3 linked regions of the Homo sapiens genome follow. The protein of the gene in region 2 interacts with the protein of the main gene of each other region in a biochemical or structural test. Each region holds a gene or a part of one and is shown on either strand. Other genes may lie near its edges.

Region 1 (3,648 bases), on a different chromosome or scaffold from region 2:
CCAGCCCCGCCTCCATAGGGACAGGCGTGCAGACACCCGTCCCTGGCTGCTTCCTCTTGTGGAATGGGTTCAAAAGTAAGCAGTGTTGTTTACACTGACAAACTGAAAAAAAAAGAAAAAGAGATAACATTGGAGGCTTGGCACAGTGGCTCATGCCTGTAATCCCAGCACTTTGGGAGGCTAAGGTGGGAGGATGTCCCCAGCCCAAGAGTTCTAGACCAGCCTGGGCAACATAGCAAGACCCCATCTCAAAAAAAAAATTTAATTGGCCAGGCAGAGGTGGGAGGATCACTTGAACCCAAAGGGTGGAGGCTGCAGTGAGCCGTGATGGCACCACTGCACTCCAGCCAGGGCAACAGAGGGAGACCCTGTCTCTAAAACAAACAAACAAACAAACAAACAAAAGAGTTAACATTGGCCAGATTAGGATTCACCAGATAGTGTTAATATTAGTTTGATTTGAGACTTTAATCAGAAAGCACATGTGTGGTGGGGGTGGGTGTAACCTAAGTCAGGTAGAATCTTTCCAACTTGGGGGGGGCACACTCCTGATTGTAGCCATATGAGTCTGTCAGTGTGGTGGAAGAGGCCATGGGTTAATGGGCAGGTAAAAAAGCACCTTGCCTGGAATTGAGTAGAAAGTAAGGCCCTTCAGACCCCGTGACACACTTGGGGACATTTTCTTGAGTAACATCCTAAGATTCATGTACCTTGATGATCTCCATCAACTTACTCATGTGAAGCACCTTTAAACCAGTCGTCTCCAAATTCAGGGGCACAGTAACATCCAACAGGCTGGAGAAAGAACGTACTAGAACTTCCATTCCTTTTTCATGTCCTCTTCTAAAAGCTTTGTCAGGGCCAGGCGCGGTGGCTCACGCCTGTAATCCCAGCACTTTGGGAGGCCGAGACGGGTGGATCACGAGGTCAGGAGATCGAGACCATCCTGGCTAACACAGTGAAACCCCATCTCTACTAAAAATACAAAAAAACGAGCCGGGCGTGGTGGTGGGCGCCTGTAGTCCCAGCTACTCGGGAGGCTGAGGCAGGAGAATGGCGTGAACCCAGGAGGCAGAGCTTGCAGTGAGCCGAGATTGCACCACTGCAGTCCAGCCTGGGCGACAGAGCGAGACTCCGTCTCAAAAAAGAAAAAGAAAAAGAAAAAGAACTGTGATTGGGGAGGACGGTCACTTTCCTGTTCTTACTGATCAGAAGGGATATTAAGGGTACCTGATTCAAACAGCCTGGAGATCACTGCTTTCAACCATTACCTGCCTTATTTATTTTTAGTTACTGTCCTTTTTTCAGTTTGTTTCCCTCCTCCATGTGCTGACTTTTATTTTGATTTTATTTATGTTTATGTTTAAGACATCCACACGTTCCTCTGCTAAAACCTTGAAAAATAGGCCTTGCCTTAGCCCCAAACACCCCACTCCTGGTAGCTCAGACCCTCTGATCCAACCCTCCAGCCCTGCTGTGTGCCCAGAGCCACCTTCCTCTCCTAAATACGTCTCTTCTGTCACTTCCCGAACTGGCAGTTCTGGAGCAAAGGAGATGAAACTCAAGGTAAGGAAACCACCTTTGAAAAGAACCAGGCTGCTCTGCTGTGGTTTGCAAATGTGGGGTTTGTTTATTTGTTTTTTAGCCTCAAAGACCTTTCTTCAAATGAGTTCTGGCATAGAAGCACCGTGTAAAATAGTTAGAATTCTGGGCAAAGGGGAAAAGAGAGCTGGGGGCCATCCCTCTCAGCACCCCACAGGCTCTCATAGCAGCAGCTCCTAAGACACCTGGTGGGACCTTGGTTTCGAAATCGCTACTCTAAGGCTGGGCACGGTGGCTCACACCTGTAATCCCAGCTCTTTAGGAGGCCGAGGAGGGTGGATCACCTGAGATCAGGAGTTCGAGACCAGCCTGGCTAACATGGCAAAACCCTGTCTCTACTAAAAATACAAAAATTAGCCGGGCGTGGTGGTATGCGTGGTGGTAATCGCAGCTACTCGGGAGGCTGAGGCACAAGGATTGCTTGAACCCCAGAGGCAGAGGTTGTAGTTAGCTCCAGCTTGGGCGACAGAGCAAGACCCTGTCGCAAAAATTGTTTAAAAAACAAACCCAAAATTGCTACTCTCATTGGGTTCCTTTGCCCATTCCTGATTTTGGCAAGAGAAATGCTTCCAGATTGCCCTGATCTGGGTAGGACAGCATCACGCCATAGCAACACTGCCCCGTGAGCTCACTGCCCCCTCAACTAGCTTGTGGTCCTTGGTTAATGTCAGTTTCTTTTTTGAGTTTGTGTTATGTCTAAGGGTCATCTGCTGGGTAACGGAACCCAGGGACTGCCCTAGTCCCTAGACTGTGCCATGCCCGACTCTGCCAGCTTTGTCAGTGATGCTGGTGCTCGCCTCCTCGGGTGCTCGCCTGGTCTGAGCACACCCAAGGAGTTCTTGAGGCCTTAGGGTTGTTTGCGAGAGAATGAAAGAACACGACCTAGCTCTCTTTAGCATCCTTGGTCAGGTTCAACACTGCCCCCAGGGGCCTCTGGTGGAGCCAACCACCATCAGCCAAATAAATCCATAATTAGAGTCAGAAAATGGATGTCTGCATATGTGTAGTGCACTAATGTCCTGCCGATGATTGACATGGAGTGGAGAGTGACCTGATCATTGCTGTGAGCTCTGCTGGCCTTGGCACAACTCATGCTGATAACTAATGCACACAGTTCCTCTGGGAGGAAATGTCCTCAGGGAACTTGGAGTTTGGGTGGGGATGTGGGTTTGTGTGCCCAGCAAGCCCTTGTGGTTGTAGCAGACACTAGTGGCATCTAGGAGGCAAAGGGTCACCCCAGTCTTAGCCACGTTTTGAGTCAAGGTGGCGGAGTGGGGCTGGTGTTGACTCTTGGTGGCAGTAACTTTTCCCAATGGTGAAAAACCCCTCTATCATGTTTCATTTACAGGGGGCTGATGGTAAAACGAAGATCGCCACACCGCGGGGAGCAGCCCCTCCAGGCCAGAAGGGCCAGGCCAACGCCACCAGGATTCCAGCAAAAACCCCGCCCGCTCCAAAGACACCACCCAGCTCTGGTAAGAAGAACGTTCTCTTGAATCTTAGAGGAAGCTGAAGCTCTCAGAGGTACAGCCTTCATTTTAGGAGGCCTTAGGCCACTGAGAATGAATAACCCCTGGCAGCTGGTCAGCAGCTTGCAGTTTACTAAGCACTGGAGTCTTCATTGCCTTCTCAGTCCTTTTGATTTCTGAGGCAAATGTTGAATCCCTACCTTTTTTTTTTTTTTTCTTTTGAGACAGAGTTTCGCTTTTGTTATCCAGGCCGGAGTGCAGTGGTGTGATCTCAGCTCACTGCATCCTCCACCTCCCAGGTTCAAGCGATTCTCCTACCTCAGCCTCCCTAGTAGCTGGGATTACAGGCACCTGCCACTATGCCCGGCTAATTTTTTGTATTTTTAGTAGAGACAGGGTTTCACCATGTTGGCCAGGCTGGTCTCGAACGCCTGACCTCAGGTGATCCACCTGCCTCGGCCTCCCAAAGTGCTGGGATTACAGGCATGAGCCACCACTCCCAGCCTGAATCCTCACTTTTTATCAATGAAGAAATTGAGGCTGATTCTGCAGCATGATAAAAAAAAATACAGAAAAA
Region 2 (3,648 bases):
ACTCTGCCCTGGCCTGCAGGTGCCCTGCCAGTCAGCGTCGTCAGCCTCTGCCCTGGGCGGTGTCAAAGTGGAGAGGCAGGTCTTTGGGGAGGCCACCAAGCAGCCAGGCATCACCTTCATCGCAGCCAAGTTCGATGGCATCCTGGGCATGGCCTACCCCCGCATCTCCGTCAACAACGTGCTGCCCGTCTTCGACAACCTGATGCAGCAGAAGCTGGTGGACCAGAACATCTTCTCCTTCTACCTGAGCAGGTGGGCGTGTGGGTTCCCTCTCGCTCCGCGTTGCTGGGAGGCAGGGCGGGGCTGGACGGGGAGCCTTCTAGGCACCCCCTCTCAGTGCTGCCCCCTCCCTGCTGCTGTGCCAGAGCTCCTGACCTCTGACCTCAGGGCATCCGGGAGGCGGGGGTTGGCCGCCCTTCTGCAGAGGAGTAAGCGGCAGCACAGAGAAAGCTGTTTGGCCGGGGTCTCCCAGTGGGAGGGGCTCGGGCCAGGCTGTGGGTCCTGGGACCTTGGCAGCTGGGCCTCCCTCCTATGAGAATGGACCCAGGTCAGGGGTCGTGGCAGTTCCTCTTGGTTCAGTCGGCCCGTCGGTCCCCAGACCTGGTGATGGGCACATGTGGTCCTGGTCCCGGGGTTGCTGATGGTGGAGAGGGTCATGGTGCCCAGGGGACCGGGGATCCCCGGGGAGGTGACCTTGGGTGCGTATGGGTCCCCGGCACCACGCTGCGAGCAGCTCTGTGGGCGTCCCCAGCAGGTGCCGGCTGCCCTCGAGGAGGAACATAGGGGGCCCTTCCTTCTGGGAAAAGGGTTCTCCCCCAGGGCCCCCACCTGCAGCCGCTGCTCCAGCTTGGGTGACCCATGGTCAGGTGACCTTGGGAAGGGGACGTCGGACTCAGTTAGTTTCCTCTTCTCGGGGCAGACCTGAGTGGAGGGTTCCACATAAGAGGGGTGACTGGGGGTTGGGGGCTTTTGTTTTGGGGGTGGGCAGCGTGTCAGCCGGCGGCCTCCTGCCCTGAGCTGCGCCTGGTCACTGCCCCACACTCTCCAGGGCTGACAGGGGCAGGTTTACCTCACGTGGCTCACTTGGCACTTGGAGTCTCTGGGCCTGACCCCTAACCTTGGATCGCTTCCGGCAGAATTCCGGCTGTAGGGCTGGCTGGGCCTCTTTGCTCTGCCCCTTGCCTGGGCAGTGAATACTCCTTAGCAACACCCAGGGCTAAGCTGCTCACTAGAGGCCAGGACACAGGTGAACCGGCTGGGCCATTTCCCCAGGAGCCTTGGGGCACAGGGGAGGCAGCCAGGTGAAAAGGGGTCCCCTGAGGGCAAGAGGGCATGCAGGCATGAGTGCCCACATGGGGAGGGGGCACACAGCCTGAGTACCCAGGTCAGGGAGGGGGACACAGGCATGAATGCCCATGTGGGGGAGGGGCACACAGCATGAGTGCCCATGTGGGGGAGGGGCACACGGTATGAGTACCCAGGTCGGGGGAGGCATACACAGGCATGAGTGCCAGGTGGAAGGAGGGGCACACAGAGTGAGTGCCCAGGTGGGGGAGGTGCACATGGTTGTGAGTGCCCAGGTGTAGTCTCAAGGCAGCAGCTTGGGCAGGAAGTGGAGCCAGGCAGGAGGGAGGGTCTGAGGGCTTCTGAAAGCATGTTTGGTGAGGAGAGGAGGGGTGGGAGGCGCTGATCAGGTTTCTACACTTGGGATTGCAGAGGTGTTGACAAGAGGCAAAGGCGGAGGAGGCTGGAGGAGGGCGGAGGCCCCAATCGGTGTTGGGAGGACTGGGTCAGGCCTGGCACTGCCTCGAGTGACAGGCAGTGGGATGGTGGCCAGCTTAGCTGCAGACGCTCTGGCGGGATGGCAGAACCGCCCCAGACACAGAGAGCTTCTCTACCAGGACCGGCAGGATTTGCTGCGTTGAAAGCTGTACTTGAGCAATGTTTAGAAACAAACCCGGGCGACATGGGTTGCAGGTCCTAGGAAGTGCAGTGCGCTCCTGCCCAGGAGCACCTTGGCTGGCCATCAGTGGTCTGGATGAGGGGGAGATGAGCGGACGTGGCTCGGGGATGCAGGTGGAGGGTGTTCCCAGGAGCAGCCAGTGCAGAGGCCCTGCGGCCAGAACCAGCCATCCCAACTTCCCAGATTGTGCCATCACTCCCTCCTGGAAGCCTTCTTTGGTTTTTTCTTCCAGACAGACAGACAGGGTCCTCCCCAGTGGAGCTCCTGGCACTCACTTCCTTGTCTGCCGCTAGCCTTGACCCTGATGTCTGGCTGAACCTTGGCTCCTGAGCAGACCAGGAGAACCTGAGGGTTGAGGAAAACCTCTTCTGGGCCAGGCTGGGCCCACGCAGAGCAGCCCTACCCCGGGAAGAAGGGAGTCTGTCCCTCCTCCTGCCTTCTGGGCCTTTCCATCCCTGCAGTTTCAGAAAGGCCCCTCCTTCAGGAAGCTCTCCCTGATTGCCACATTCACCCTCTTACTCCTGACCTGGCACTCTTGTGCTTGGGGGGTGGCGTGGCAGCTGACTCCTCCCTTTTCCTCCTAGGGACCCAGATGCGCAGCCTGGGGGTGAGCTGATGCTGGGTGGCACAGACTCCAAGTATTACAAGGGTTCTCTGTCCTACCTGAATGTCACCCGCAAGGCCTACTGGCAGGTCCACCTGGACCAGTGAGTAGTGGCTGCAGTCGGCTCCCCTGGGTTCTGTGGGCGGGGGCGGTGTGCGGAGACCCTGGAGGACCCCGGTTCTGCAGGTGGGGGTTGCATGTGGGGAGTAGTGGGAGCTGGGCAAGAAAGAGATGGGGTCAGACCAGCCCTCCATGCCCCTCCTTGCCCCTCCATGCTCCCCATCACCTCCATCCCCTCTATTCCCTCTATCCCTCCATCCCTCCATTTCCTCCATGCCTCTGTGACTCTCCATGACCCACCATCCCTTCTGTCCATCCCTCCATGCCCTCCATCCCCTCCATCCCCTCATCCCTCTGTGACTCTTCATGACCCTCCATCTCCTCCATCCCTCCATCCCCTCCATCCCTCCATCCCTCCATCCCCTCCATCCCTCCATCCCTCCATCCCCACATCCCTCTGTGACTCTCCATGACCCTCCATCCCCTCCATCTGTCTATCCCTCCATCCCTCCATCCCTCCATGCCCCTCCATCCCTTCATCCCCTCCATCCCCTCCATCCCTCTATGCCCCTCCATCCCCTCCATCCCTCCATGCCCCTCACCACCACCTGAGGGTCTCCCACCCCCTCTACCACTCTGTGTCTCCTCTCCCACCCTCTTCCCTGGAGGGCTTACAGCCGGCTGTGCTTCCAGGAGCCCTGAGGGGAGGAGAGTGCAGCCCAGCCAGGGGAGGGGCTCCCAGGGAGGGGCACTGGGCCCCCAGGGCACACTCCAGTCCCGGCAGGGGCTTCACGCCCTGACTCCCCGCAGGGTGGAGGTGGCCAGCGGGCTGACCCTGTGCAAGGAGGGCTGTGAGGCCATTGTGGACACAGGCACTTCCCTCATGGTGGGCCCGGTGGATGAGGTGCGCGAGCTGCAGAAGGCCATCGGGGCCGTGCCGCTGATTCAGGGCGAGGTGAGCGCCGGGGGCTGGGGCTGGGGCTGGGGCTGGCAGGGGGAGCCCCAAGGCCACCACTACCAC
Region 3 (3,648 bases), on a different chromosome or scaffold from region 2:
GATGAGCCAGAGAAAAAGAGTGGAGAGGGATTGGTATTGCCAGAAGTTGGGAGAGGAGAAATTTTAGAGTAAAGTTAATTTTTCAACTTTTGGAATTTGGAGCCTCGGGGGAGGGAAGCTAGATGACCATCAATATAAAAACCCCAACATAAAAGCAGTAATCTGAAATACAGCCAAGACCCAAGACCTGAGCATCAACTTAGTGCCCTGCAGCCAGGAGGAAGAGGAATAACCGTGATGAAGAGAGTGTAGTGAAGGGGTACAACCAGGACAGTGGGGAGCAGCGAAGATCGGATGGTCAGCAGCCAAGCAAAGCCTCCTTTCCCATTGGAGAGACTCACAGATATGTGAAGGCAGGGGTTAGAGGGGTTTTGGTAGTTGCCACCAGTGATGGTTCCTAATTAGACTTCTGTAACCAGACATCATCATGGCTGTTCCACTAGTAACCAGCCTGTGTGTTTCCATCCTTCAGGTGGTATTGGAATGCTATGTAAGAAAGGACTTGGTCTACACCAAAGCCAATCCAACGTTTCATCACTGGAAGGTCGATAATAGGAAGTTTGGACTTACTTTCCAAAGCCCTGCTGATGCCCGAGCCTTTGACAGGGGAGTAAGGAAAGCAATCGAAGACCTTATAGAAGGTATTGAACTTGTCGCTGCATTCTTAGTGGGACTATGGAAATGTTCCAAATTATTTTTAATTCCAATAGTCTGCCATCATTTATTTGTGGTTTATTTGCGGGAGGGTTTGGGACCAGGTCAGTAGATGCCAAAACTTTTGGAATTTCCAAGGAGAGTAATTAAAGTGACAATTCAGGGAAAAGGAGATGGGTTTCAGAGTAAGGAGTAATCCCAATTGATTTTTAGACTCTGCTGTGAAAAAACAGGCAGGTTCTGGATTTCCATGTGCATGTATTTTTGACTGCTTTCACCTTGTCCTGACTATTGAAATGGCTTTGGTCTGGTCTGTCTTGGCTCAGAAGTAGAGAATGGATTCTGGCGGGCCCAGAAGGCTCCTGGCCTACCCACTGTCCTCCTGTAATCAGAGGCCCAGGGTGTACAGCTGCCACTGAAAAGGAAAGGGATCTGTGACCTCTGGAGCCCTGGTTCGGTTTAGGCCTTGGTCTATGGGTAAGTGAGTAGTAGGCATTGTGTTACATCTGATCGTGGCCTGGAGGGCCCTTGGGCAGTCAGTTCTCATGGTGGGCTTGACTAGAGTCCACAGATGCAAACACAAAAATTCTCCACTGCAGCACATCCAGGTATCAAATCAGAGGGTTAAAGAAGCCATAGACAGGGCCCTGTGAAGAAAGAAATATCAAGCAAGGCATGTTAATACCAAATTCAGATCTTGGGGAAATTAATCACAAAAGGATGTATGTTTCATTTGCTTAAGAAATAAAAGTGTTCTGAAGTCATTTTCTTCATTGTGGATTTGGGGGAAGAGGAAAAAAAGCAAGTCTTAAAAGACAAATTACTTAACATTATAATCAGTAGTAAGACAAGACTAGCTAGAACATGAATCCATAAACAAGTATGAGATAGCCAAAAAGAGATAATAAAAACCAGTGTTCAAATCATAGTTCTGACATAAGTGGCAAATATTTAAAATGTTATTAAACACAGCTTTTTCATGTTTAGAGAAAAAACAGCTCCTATATTATTGATAGACGTTCGCATTGTGTCCATGTACTTAATTGCACAACATTTCATTCTCCTACTTGTAATTTTTTTCTCTATATACATACTATCTAGCTTTTTTTTCCACCAGTTTTCCTAGAACATTGGTTGATTGGAGTAATTCAGAGTAGAGACAGCTCCCGAAAGACCAGTAGGAGTTGCACAGAACATACTATGGGACTGTTGTTTTTTCTCCTGCAGTCTCTCGTTGGAAATTTAAGTATTTCTCATCCTTTCTGAGCAATTGTTTTCATTTCAATTTCATGTAATAGCAAAATATTTTCTTTTTCTTTTTTTTTTTTTTTTGAGATGGAGTCTCCAGCCCAGGCTGGAGTGCAGTGGTGCCATCTCGGCTCACTGCAACCTCCGTCTCCCAGGTTCAAGCGATTCTCATGCCTCAGCCTCCCCAGTAGCTAGGATTACAGGCGCCCGCCATCACACCCAGCTAATTTTTGTATTTTTAGTAGAGACAGGGTTTCACTATGTTGGCCAGGCTGGTCTTGAACTCCTGACCTCGTGATCTGCCGGCCTCAGCCTCCCAAAGTGCTCGGATTGCAGGCGTGAGCCACTGCGTCTGGCCAGCAAAATATTTTCTAAATGCATATTTTAAAAGATCTAACCAAGAAAAGGAAAAGATAGAGAATAAATTTCCCTTTTGGTATATCTGTCACTGATGCAATTTTAAATATGTCTTTCTTTTGGCCAATTAAGTTGATCCATGCATTATTGTCTGCTATTCAGGGTGGTGGGGGGAAGTAGGGCAGTTGTACCTGATTCGCATACCAGAATGAAGAAAAAGGTGAACAAGTAATTACATTGAACTCTAAAATCCAATTGGTTCCATGATGGAATAAGGAGGGTTTTCTAACAAGAGCTGTAATTTTGACTTGGAAAAACAAAGCAAACTCACTGATGCCTTGGTATTGCAAGAGGAAACCCCCTTGCACAGGTGTCCCCTTAGAAGGGAGCCCACAATTTGGGATTTAGAAATACAACATCTGAATTCAGAACTGGACACAACCATACAAGCTATTGAGCTAAAATGCCTTCATTGGTAGGTGAAAAGACCAGAGGAGCTAAATCCAGTTTACACAGTAGATTGTGGCAGGTCTCACTTAGGGGTTCCCCGTCCAGTGCTTTTCCCACTACACGGCTGGGACCTCAAGGTCACTACAGAGGCTGGGCTCGATGCATGTCCCTCAGAGGAGTGGGCAGCCTCTCCCCTCACCTCCTCCACAGTGCCTTTCTGTGTGCTTATTCTCTAGCAGCGAGTGCAGAAGTTTGAGAGATTAATTGGGAACAACAGCAGGCAAAGTTAATTTAGGGAGCATCCTGGCAAGAATCAATTAAAGAAGAGTAAATTAAAAGCACTCAATTCCCAGGTAACTTGTTTCTGTTGGTAATTCACATGCAAAAAGAATGGAATGTGGTTTTATTAAAATATACTTTTTTAAACGGTTGGATTTGATGTATCCTCTTGGGAAACACTTTTTATTACATTTTTGTCTTTTTAGGTTCAACAACGTCATCTTCCACCATCCATAATGAAGCTGAGCTTGGCGATGATGACGTTTTTACAGTAAGTTTCCTTTGTCCTTTGCTTTCCAGATTAGTTGTTGAATAATCAGAGAAAGGTTTTGTTTAAGGGCATGAGGCACACTTTGCAATGCAGTGTTTGCTGTTGCTGTTTGGATGGCATCAGAGCGATCTCTGTCTTACTACAATTTTTCTCAGGCTGGGTTTGTCCCTGTTGCTCACGCTGCAGTGAGCAACACTGCACATCTGCCACACAGCACAGCAGTGTCAGCTCTCCCAGGTCTGTCCAAGGTTGTCTTAAAGTCTTTGCTCAGATTTAGGATGACCAGCTGCCCTGGTTTGCCCAAGTCTGTCCTGGTTTTAGCACAAAATGTCCCTAGTCCTGGGAAACACCTCAATCCCAGGCAAGCCAGGACAATCGCTTGCCCTATT

What was found.
Region 1: of the proteins of CTSD (region 2) and MAPT, one has a biochemical effect on the other in vitro, tested with the Homo sapiens proteins (one study listed by BioGRID).
Region 3: the proteins of CTSD (region 2) and SPRED2 form a complex in vitro, tested with the Homo sapiens proteins (one study listed by BioGRID).

What each region holds. Positions count from the first base shown.
Region 1 is NC_000017.11:45,988,510-45,992,157, forward strand, and holds part of MAPT (microtubule-associated protein tau), read left to right. Parts: intron 1-1,368; coding exon 1,369-1,566; intron 1,567-2,950; coding exon 2,951-3,077; intron 3,078-3,648. UniProt on the Homo sapiens protein: Promotes microtubule assembly and stability, and might be involved in the establishment and maintenance of neuronal polarity.
Region 2 is NC_000011.10:1,753,928-1,757,575, reverse strand, and holds part of CTSD (cathepsin D preproprotein), read left to right. Parts: intron 1-19; coding exon 20-252; intron 253-2,547; coding exon 2,548-2,670; intron 2,671-3,437; coding exon 3,438-3,582; intron 3,583-3,648. UniProt on the Homo sapiens protein: Acid protease active in intracellular protein breakdown. Plays a role in APP processing following cleavage and activation by ADAM30 which leads to APP degradation.
Region 3 is NC_000002.12:65,331,598-65,335,245, reverse strand, and holds part of SPRED2 (sprouty-related, EVH1 domain-containing protein 2), read left to right. Parts: intron 1-472; coding exon 473-641; intron 642-658; exon of another isoform or gene 659-1,127; coding exon of another isoform or gene 1,128-1,131; intron 1,132-3,194; coding exon 3,195-3,259; intron 3,260-3,648. UniProt on the Homo sapiens protein: Negatively regulates Ras signaling pathways and downstream activation of MAP kinases. Recruits and translocates NF1 to the cell membrane, thereby enabling NF1-dependent hydrolysis of active GTP-bound Ras to inactive GDP-bound Ras.